Linked DNA regions of Homo sapiens: region 1 is linked to region 2. The links come from fine-mapping of genetic effects on gene expression. Tissue or cell type: nucleus accumbens. Region 2 holds a variant in brackets; the other region holds the start of a gene. All regions are shown on one strand. Distances are between the middles of the regions.

Region 1 (5,366 bases), 34 kb before region 2:
CCAAGTGTGTGAACAGAAACCAGTATGCAAAGATATGACACTGCTTTGAAAATGCATTTTAATTTTAAAGAATAAAAGCATAAAGAATAAACGAATAAAAGAGTAGTGCATGCATACTTATTCTCATTGGAAAGTGCCAGTTACGACCCCACAGCCACAAGCCATAAGGTTATGAGGATCAGTAGTCTGGTTTGTCTTGACCTGCCCTCTACACACCTACACACACACACACACACACACACACGCCCCACCCTCCCCTCCACAGGGACCTCGCAGGAAATCACGTGGGGCTCCCTTACACCAGGGATTGCAGTCCTGGGGAGGGTGGTGTGCCATCTCAGGGCAGAGCCCCCCACCAAAACCACTGAGGGGAAAACCAGTCCCAAGCCCCACTCCCGACCGGCCCTCTCCCCACTTTTCTCTTTGCTCCTCAAAGACCTGTCTTGGGAGGGTGACTACCTGAGCGCTGCTGGGAGGAGTGGAGGTGAGTGAGGACGGTTCCAAGCCAGGCTGAGAAGGGCGCCGACCAGTGGAACTGCAGCCAAGGGGCAAAAGGTGTCCGGAAGACAGCGATTATGGGGTTTCCCCATCCCATCACAGCCTTTTGGGGGCTGGGGTGAGGGATTCTTTCCTCTCTTCTTCAGGCAACCCGTCCAATCCCCCCATGTTCCCTGTGGACTGCAGCACCTTTTCCGCAGCCGAGCCCCCTAAGGTGTCCACTCATGTCTGCAGACGGTCCCAGAAAGAGACCATCGGAAGCCATTGGGAATGGACTCCAGGTCAGGGCTGGGCACAGCCTCACAGGGCAGGGCTGGGCTAATCCCCGCTGGCTGAGGAAGGGGAGAAGGAAATTCCCGCAGGCTGCAGGGGATGGGTGCAAGCCAACAGAACACAAGGCGCTTTGTTTGCTCCAGGTAACTGCTCAGTTCTCGCTCACAAAGTGCAGATGCATCCGCTACCCTCACTCCACTCCCAACACCAGAGTTGACTCTGAGAGCAGCGGTGCCCAGACCTGGCCACTGCGGGCAATCAGTGCCGTTCCCATCCAGCCATCCAACGACAGTCACTGTGGACCCATCTCCACCCTCCCTAGAATAAGCAAAAGCATCTAAAATTTGGGGTATCCCTTTCCCCCACCTGCCCAAATCCTCACTCTGAGGAGCCAGGTGACTGCACTCCCCTCTTTTAGCATCAATAACAGAGGTTAAAGACACTTTAAGGTGAGCTAAGTGTAGGCAGTCTTTCTCCCCCACCCTAAAGGCCCTCCTCAAAAAGCCCTCAGGAAGCCTGCGTCTGTGCTAAGCGCAGCTGGGGTACAGCTCCCCAATCCCTGACCCTCTCCACACCTCAGAGCCTAAACTTCGCTTCTAAAGAATTCTGGGTTGAATTTACTTCTATAGAAGTCAGGTCTGTGATGTGTATATTTTATCTTTATATCTATTTCATTTTATTTGACTTCCCAGGATTTTTTTTTCTTCCCCCTCAAGAATTGCTCTTTAAACATAAGGGGGTTTTGAGAGGAACCTCGGGCCGGTCCCTCAGGCTGTTAGGAAAGTCTGCATTTTGCAGAGCTGCTCTCCCCGGGAGGAGATGAACAATGAGCTAATTACATTTTTATCTTTCTAATGAGCTGAGGATTTGTGTAAATGAGAAAAGCAGGGGGTACGCTAGAGGGAGGGAGAAAAGACTTTCCACCCCCAGCCCTCCGAGGGCAGAGCTGGTACCTGGAAGGGGTGGAGAAACAGAAGTCCCCACGGTTCCTAAACTTTCTCAGCCAGTTTTGCAGCAATCCCAAGGCTACTTGACTGAATGACCAGTGAAGGAAAGGGCTTGGTTTTATTTTTTAAATCTTTGTCGAACCTATGAAAATAAACAAAAGCTGCTCCAAGCATTCTCTCGGCCTTTCTGAACTTTCTACGCTTTGGGTTTTTGTTTTTTCCTCCCGTCTCAGAGGTTAAAAACTTCGATAGGGACTCGGAGTCCTCCTAGAGGAGAGGGAAGCTCCCCTGTTATTTAAAGCGCAAGGCTTTGTTTCAGGTATGGGAAAGGCGAAGTTGGATCCCAGGAAGAGCGGCTCCGGGGACCACAGCGAGTCCCTGCGAGGCCAAGGCGCAGAGCTGCCGCTCCCGGGCCAGCCCCGCCGTGCACCTGGGTCGCGAGGGGCGCTGAGCGATACCTGGGACAGACCAGACGCGCTTAGGAATCACGTGCACAGCATGCGAGCAACCTCGGGCCCTCAGTCCCCAGCACCGGGACCCAGCGGCGGGCGGGCGTAGGGTGGCGCGGGTTCTCCTGCAGCTCCGGCCGGGGGATGGAGGGGGCGGCTCGCGCACGTGGGAGGAGGCAGCCTTACCTTGGGGCTTGGAGGCTTCGGTGGCATTGGGCGGCGTCATGGCGATGCAGACGTCCCCCTCGGGGAACTTGTCACACTTAAGCATCTCGGGCCAGTAGAAGCCGAAGAACTGCATGACCGGCTCGCACGAGTCGCGCACGGCCTCGCAGAGCCAGCGACACGGGTAGATGGGCCGGTCCAGGCAGACGGGCGCGAAGAGCGAGCAGAGGAAGACCTGGGTGCCGGCGTGGCAGTTCTTGTTGAGCAGGGGCACCCAGCTGCTGGCCTGCTGCTTCACCTCCGCCATGGTCTCGTGCTCCAGCAGGTTGGGCAGCACCATCTTCTTGTAGCCCACGTTGTGGCACAGCCGCAGGTCCGCGGGGATGTCCACGCACTGAGGTGGCTTGGTGTAGAAGCGCCCGCTCTGGTACGGGCCGATGTCCGACTGGAAGCTCACGTAGTCGTACTCGCTGGCCGAGCCCACGGCCAGAAGCGCCGCGCCCAGCGCCAGCAGCACGCCCAGGGCTGCCCCGCGGCGGCCCCCCTCGCTGCGCCCGATGCCCATGCCGGCTCTGCGCCCTGTTCTCCGCGACGTCGGGGCTGCCTCCGCCGCCTCCCCGCGCGCGTCCTGCCGCAAACTTCCAGGGACCTCCGGGGACAAAAGGCGCAGTCCCCAGCGTTGCCCGGCTCCGCGGCCGCAAGCTGCTGCCCGGTCCCCCCGGCCAGTGGCGGCCCTCGGCCTGCGGTCGGAGGCGGCGCGGGCGGGGAGGCGGCGCTGCGGGCTGGGTGCGCCCCGGCTCCCGGAGGTGCGGCGAGCAGGAAGGCGCGGGGCGGCGGGCGCGCGGCACTGACTCCGGAGGCTGCAGGGCTGGAGTGCGCGGGGCTCCTACGGCCGAGCCCTCGGAGCCGCCCCGCGCAGCCAATCAGCTCCCGGCGGGGCGAGCCGCACTCGTTACCACGTCCGTCACCGGCGCGGGAGCCAATCGCCTCCCTCGCGAGCGGGTTCGGTTTACTAGAACCAGACGCGGCTCAACACCCCTTAAAAAACAAAACCAAAAATACATAAATAAAAGGGGGAGGAGGAAAGAGACAAGGGGAGAAAAAGAAGGGGAATGGATCACGGCGTGGGGTGGAGAGAGACCAGGGCGGACGCTGTAATTAACTCGCATTGGCTTGCAGAGAAGCGGGGAGCCTGGATCATACTTGCAAACCCATGAAATTATGAAGACTTTTTTTTTTTGAGACAGTTTCGCTCTTGTTGCCTAAGCTGGAGTGCAATGGCGCTATCTCCGCTGACTGCAACCTCCGCCTCCCGGGTTCAAGCGATTCTCCTGCCTCAGCCTCCCGAGTAGCTGGGATTACAGCCGCGTGCCACCATGCCCCCGCTAATTTTTTGTATTTTTAGTAGAGACGGGGTTTCACCATGTTAGCCAGGCTGGTCTCGAACTCCTGACCTCAGGTGATGCTCCTGCCTTGGCCTCCCAAACTTTTTTTTTCTTTTTCTTTACACTGCTTCCTAATTTCAACCAACAGCCCTTTAGACTAGCGGCTCCTCTCCTCGGTTCTCTAGCTGCGGTGCAGACAGGTGGTTTCCCAACTAACAGGGGTTCAGGAAGGCTGAAGCGAGGGAGGTCTGCTTGTAAATACCCAGTGGGCCTGGCTGGGCTCCCTGGAAGGCGAGGCGAAGGCGCAGTTGGAGCTGTTTGCTGTGAGCAGCACCTCTCCAGGTGGGGCCGCCCATGGTGGCCCTCAACACTGGGGCAGTGGGTGGACTTTGCCCGGTGTGGCGGCAGGAAGAGCTGCTAGCAACGGTATTAGCTCTGGGAGGACACTTTTTTAAATATATAATATATATTTAAATAGAAAAACCCTACTCAAGTCCTAGCCCGGGCGACAGCACATCTGTGTGTTTGTGGTGTGGAAAGCCAAAACATTAAAAACACATGTGCACTTATCAGCGTGGCTGGTGTAAATACCAAGTCCATCACTCAGGCACACATGCTAAGGTTAGACCCAGTCCAGGAACTTCAAGTTAAAATCAAGGGTCCCCACTAGGGCAGACGCCAAGAGGACGGTATCAGCACAACAGCTCGGCCCCCAGGAACAGAAGTCTCTCTGCCACCTTCTACCTCGAATTCCTGAGAATTCTTCGTAGGTTTCAAACATTCCCCTGAGAGGGAGGGTTAAGCTCTGGAGAGCTGGGAGTGAGACCCGGACTATCCCGGGACAGAAGACCACAGCAAATAGTTCATGAAGTTCCTGGAGTCTCCATATCTTCTGTCCCTAAGTGCGGGTGGAGAGAGGCTGATATATTCATAGCCCAGTCTGAGCGCACACCCCATGTGGCAAAGGGGTCACAGATCTTAGCGCTCCACAGAGACACTATAGGGCGCGCTGCCTTGCCCGCCAGCTTGTTTGTAAAGCTCTAGGGAGCTTGCTTTGGACTCTGCAAACCTAATTTCTTGATGGACAGATTCCAAGTGAAATGACTAGAGTTTGTGAAGAAGCAGGGCTGTTTTCTTAAAGCATTCGTGCCCGTACAGACACGGTGATTCCACGGTGCACACAGGAGGCTTCTGCAGATGGATGACTTCTCTGTCATTTCGTGGCCAATGGAAGATGCCTTGACACTCAAAAGGTGACATGGAGGCTGGAAGGAAAACACAGAGAAGAGAGAGCAAGATCGGGATGGCCAAGGGTTAATCCCAAGACAATTGGTGAGGCCGGCCTGTGGAGCTGAGGAAGACATTCCTCACAGAGAATAAGACCGCAGGAGACCCGGCAACTGTGTCTCAATTCAAGGGGCATTTAGAGAAAAATGCTGTTTGGTAGGGGGTCTTTTTGTCTCCTAGGGCCAGGCCCTCCACCTCAAGCCAAATGCGTCTGTTTGCTCACTGCAAAGATGGATGTTTGCAGATAACATCCTCTCACCTCTGAACCCAGGCTTAGCTGACCGCTCACTCACGTTTTCAGTTTTCCCGAATGGCAGGAGGACTTGTGTCTGTCCACGGTTAAATGCTGGAAATTCGTCCAG
Region 2 (5,366 bases):
CTGCCAGGCCAGGTACTAAAGCCCAAGGACAGAGTCAGCCGGGTTCCCGGCTTGTCTTCCTGGTGACCTTGGGTTTCTACCAGCCCTTCCAGCTTCTGGATGTGAACCTTCCAGCAGAGTCCTCTGTTCATAAAGACATCCTCAGCCTCCACTGTCCTAACCTTCAAATCTGTTAATACTCAACTCCACAAATGATGGAGGGATGACGGGTGCCTGCCATGGTGAATACTTCAGATCTATTTCATAAGGAAAAGCATCCTTTAGTAAAAAGAAGAGAAAAATGAAGCTTTTTCCCTAGTACTTCAAAGCACGTGGGGCCCAGTGGCACTTCCTGCACCAGGGCTTTCTGCACCATCTTCTCCTGGGTCTTTGCTTTGTCTGCTCTGAGTGGATTGTGTGCCAATTTCTCCTTCCTCTCCTGGAGAACCCCTTTTCTTTTCAGCACCATCCCAAGGACGGGATAAAGTCCTGGTGGTTTGCTCTAGTTAACTATTGCTGTGTATCAAACCACTCCAAAACTTAAGTCGTTTAAGACAACAATATACTATGGTTCATGTATATGTTGACTAAGTCAGCCAGGCAGTTCTCGTTTAGGGTCTCTCATGGGCTATATTCAGATAAATGGAGCCCGGATATGGATCACCTAGAGTCTGAATGTGACTGGACCTCCAAGATGAATCATGCACATGGCTGATGGTTGACATTGACTGTCAGCAGCTCAGCTGTGCTGTTATCCAAAGCACCTCCATGTGGCTTCACCAGATGGCCTGGACTTCCCACATGATCGTGGCCAAGTCCCAAGAGGGGGTGGCTCATGCCTGTAATCCCAGCACTTTGGGAGGCCAAGGCAGGCTGATCACCTGAGGTCAGGAGTTCGAGACTAGCCTGGCCAACATGGTGAAACCCCATCTCTACTAAAAAATAAATAAATAAATAAACAAAAAATACAAAAATTAACCAGGAATGGTGGCAGGCACCTGTAATCCCAGCTACTCAGGAGGCTGAGGCAGGAGAATTGCTCAAGCCCGGGAGGGGGAGGTTGTGGTGAGCCAAGATCACGCCACTGCACTCCAGCCTCAGTGACAAGAGCAAGACTGTCTCAAAAAAAAAAAAAAAAAAAAAAAAAAAAACAGAAAATCTATGGAACTCAGCTGTGTCACATACTCAGAAATGTCCCGGTGCTCCCCCCGTGTGCTTTATTTATTTTTATTTTTTTTAAGATAACAGAATTGGAAACCAAACATCAAACTGCTTCCTGGGGGGTCTTCTCTGGACTTATAATTAAGAATAAAAGGTAACCAAAAGAAAGGAGAAAAAGGCATGGAGGGAAAAGTGAAAACGCAACTTAAAAAAAAAAAATGAACATTGAGAGTTTGAATAATTCCAAAACCCTTTCTGTTTAAAAGCAAAGTAAATCTTCCAGAGCATCAAAGCCCTGTAGAGAGCAAATGGGGTTTATAGTGAAGATCCTAAATCCCCAATCTGAAGACTGCCCCTCCCCCACTGGTGCTAAGAGCAGAGGCACCAAGCCATTCACTCGTCCCCTGCAGGAGTAAGTAGGTTTTCCTCCAGCCTGTCGCGGGCTCCTTCCTGAACCATCCGGGAATGTCTCTGCTCTGAGGGTCTCTCTCTCCCCTAAAGAATCCCTGTCCACCTCTGTAGGGGGCATCTGGGAAATGGGTGGAGGACACAGCGGGGCGGCGACTGGCCCCTTCCTTGCTGTGTGGCACAGGGAAATCTGCCCCCACCCTGTGCCCAGGCCCGATCACGCATGAGGCTAAAGACGGTGTGTGTGAAGCTGCTTCCAGTTTCTTGTAGGATTATACAGCTGTAAAGAGGGCCAGGAAGAGAGAGGGGGATATTGTGATTTGCATTTTGCACTCCTGATCTTAAAAAATTTGTATCCCAGCAGGTTTGGGAAAAAGAGCCCTGGATGGAGAGTTTCACAAGCTGGGGTCTGACCTATTTCACCACCCACTAACTGTGGGTCTTCCATTTTCCCACCTCACCAGGCCACGCGGAGAAGCAGCTCTGCTCCCCTCCCTCTGAGGGGTAGGGGGACACCCTCACCCCTCAACCCTTTGAAGCCACTCATTTGTCCCCGGCTGCCTCCTTTCAGGCCACTGTGGGGAGCTGATAAGAAGAAGAGTTTGCAAACGGGCTACCATGGAGAAAATTCACAAGTTGTTTTCCTAAAAAGGGAGGAATTGGAGTGGGGGCGGGCATGGTGGGGGCAGGGCCCGTTCCCTCGGCTCTGGAGGTCTCTATATTCTTTAGCTCTTAATCATTAGATCGGAAAAGGGGGGGAAGGGCAGGCAATGGAGGCAGAGGAGGAGGGAAAGGGGAAGAAAAAAACTCAACAACAACAAAGAGCCAGCCTAACACTCAGGTCCTCGGGGACCCAGAACTCCATTCAGAGTTTTCAGAAAATAGGGTCAGGCATGTCTTGTGACCTGAGACCCCAGAGCTCCTCTGTTCCCCATAATTATCTAATACAGCACTCTCTCTGCCAAATACAATGAAACAATTTGTCACTTCAATTATCTGTCAGTCAACACTGAGGCCTTTTCAGCAGGCCAGCACATGTGTTTGGAGAGCTTGTCAGTGAGGGCTGTCTAGCCAGACCCATAACCACGGAAAATGGAACCTTTGTTAATTCTGGTTCTTAGAAAAGTAAATCCATTCAATTTCTCTCCTCTCGCTCTCTCCTTTTCTAAA[T/G]GCCTTCAGCTTGGAATTCGCACAAGGAACTGAATTGGTCCTGCTCTGAACTTCGGATGACTGGCCGAAGGATTTGCATGAGGAAGCAGAAATTAATTATTCTTTTCGGGGCTTTTTCCCCCTCGTTTTCTGTAATTCTGTGTTAGAAGCGAGATTACACCCTGCGTTACCAGCGGATGGGGGTGGTGAGGGATAGGGAAGTGGGGGCCGGGCTGGGAGAGGCAAGCGGTTCCTGAGTTCAGCCCCGCCAGCGGCCCTGCTTTCCTTTTCCTTCCCTGCTCTCATGTGGGAAGAAGGCAGCTCCATGCCCGCCGCCAAGGGGAAGGCGGGACATGTGGCTCCCTCCGGAAGGGCGCTCCCCTTCAGGGTCCTGGGGATTCTCCACTTGGAGAAATAAAGGAAAAGGAAATGGGTCATCCCTTGGGCAGAGCCTGACTTCCACTCCTAGACACAGACCTAAGGCTATTTCCTGCCAGGACGCAGAGGCCTCCTCCCCTGTGGGTGGACAGGGACCTCCACGCTGTCAGGGACCTCCTCCCCGTGAGGGCAAAGCAGGTCCATGGCTGAATCATTGAGGCCTGCCTGGGAAGTCTGTACATCAGTGATATTTCCCAGAATGGTCTAACTTTAAATACTCCAGCCCACCGTCAGACCATGTGCGAAGCTGCATGTCTCCATTTGGGGTTGAGAATTTGAAGCTGCTCTAAGACCGGGTGCCAGCACCCAAGCCAGAGGACCCCTCCCGGCTCACAGGGGTCCTCGCACAGAGAGATGCTGGTGTGCTTTGAAGGTGGGAGCTGGGGGTAGGCAGTGGTTTGGTATTTCATAGCTCAATTGTTTCCACAGTAATTGGGTTTTTTTTAGAGACAGGGTCTTGCTCTGTCCCCCAGGCTGGAGTGCATTGGCACCATCGCAGCTCACTACAGCCTCAAACTCCTGGGCTGAATCCTCCCACCTCAGCCTGCCAAGTAGCTGGGACAACAGATGTGCACCACCACACCCAGCTCAATTTTTTTTAATTTTTAATGTATTTATGTATTCATTTATTTTGTAGAGACAGGGTCTCCACAAACGTTATGTTCGTAACATGTTGCCCAGACTGGTCTTGAACTCCTGGCCTCAAGCAATCCTCCCACCTCAGCCTCCCACAGTGCTGGCATTACAGGTGTGAGCCACTACACCCAGACGCCATACTGATTTTCTTCATACATTGACCTATAACAAATAAAATTATAATGTTTTAAAATTTACATCCATGACTTCATATATGCTAAATGCTTTATCCCACTTTAGACTTTTACAGATCCTCTCTATGAGGGCCTGTTTCCTCCCCATCCAACACAAGCCCAAAGCCGGGATCCAGTACTTCCTGCTTCTGGGAGGGTTTCCTTTCCCTCCTTCCAGTCCCAGGACCCAGAACCACCAAAGAACACACATTGGTGTTTTCCAAGGTATTAGAATCGTGTCCCCAGGACATCTGAGAAAACAGGTCCCTGAAAAAGTTCAAATCAAAATCTCTCTCGCCCACAGATGCACTGGAGAGTGTCCATCCTACAGCCTGGCCTCTGTGTCACCAGAATCATTCTTGCCTCTGCCCTTTCTGTCTGCTTTCTCCCCTGCCTCACTTTCTTCCTCTCTTCTTCTCCTTTCTTTCCCTCTTTTTCCATCTGCTTCCTTTCCTGCCTTTTCCCTGCCAGACTTTTCTCTATATTGTTTCCTCATTTATCCTTCCTTAGGATTTTGGCCTCTTCCTGTCTTTTTCCTTTTTGAGTCCAAAGAATTTCACAGCCATCCCTGTAGTGTTGGATTGTACAAAGAGAGAAACCACCCTCTTTTTTCCTTTTTTTTTTTTTTTTTTTTTTTTTTTGAGACAGAGTTTCCCTCTTGTCACCCAGGCTGGAGTGCAATGGCACAATCTTGGTTCACTGCAACCTCCACCTCCTGGGTTCAAGCGATTCTCCTGCCTCACCCTCCCAAGTAGCTGGGATTACAGGTGTGTGCCACCACATCTGGCTAATTTTTGTATTATTAGTAGAGACGGGGTTTCACCATGTTGGCCAGGCTGGTCTCAAACTCCTAACCTCAGGTTATCTGCCCGCTTCAGCCTCCCAAAGTGCTGGGATTACAGGCATGAGCCACCATGCCCAGTCTCTTTTTTCCTATTTTATAGGTAAGAGAATATAAGCCGGAGTGTGGACTCTTAAATTCAGTCATTGCTCAATAAAGAAAGAAATCTGCAACCACCAGGTAGGCCCAGTCCCAGCCAGGCCTGTAATGGGTGTTCCTGCCTCCATCTCACCCCCAGAACAGAGCGCACTTTTCCCCACGTGACTTAGGTGGCAGAAGTCCTCTAACACGCCATCCTGGCAGCCAACATGAACGTGGTCCAAGAGGGAACTGGGTCTTTTTCTCCTGAGCTGTGAGTGGAGCCTCTTTTCAGCTCTCAAGGAAGAGTCCATCTTGGGGGATGTGGCAATGGGGGAAGAAAATCACCTTTCTTTCTAAATGATCTCAAAGTTAACCTGGCCCTACAAAATGAGCACTCACTTTGAGAAGCCACACACTTATTTGAAATGTTTTTGGAAATTAAAACATATAGAAGAGCAGCACAAAAAACATCAGACACATTACTTTCTAAGAACCCCATG

Which allele goes with the higher level. Alleles are on the strand shown, and positions count from the first base shown. SD is a standard deviation of normalised expression in the study named.
In carriers of allele G in region 2, the expression in nucleus accumbens of the gene that starts at base 3,211 in region 1 tends to be higher than with T alone (moderate effect, 0.64 SD a copy in GTEx).

Evidence for each region.
Region 1: SFRP1 starts here. The variant in region 2 is fine-mapped to the expression of SFRP1 in nucleus accumbens (GTEx, PIP above 0.99).

The regions. Positions count from the first base shown.
Region 1 is chr8:41,306,263-41,311,628 of GRCh38, forward strand. It overlaps SFRP1 (secreted frizzled related protein 1), which reads right to left and starts at 3,211. Exons shown (of 3, transcript NM_003012.5): 1 at 2,354-3,211. The coding sequence starts at 2,897. RefSeq lists enhancers at 1,389-2,160, 2,161-2,931, 4,851-5,366.
Region 2 is chr8:41,340,244-41,345,609 of GRCh38, forward strand. No RefSeq gene overlaps it. Among named protein-coding and RNA genes, the nearest start is that of SFRP1, 33 kb to the left of the region's middle. The variant T/G (reference allele first, on the strand shown) is at 2,719.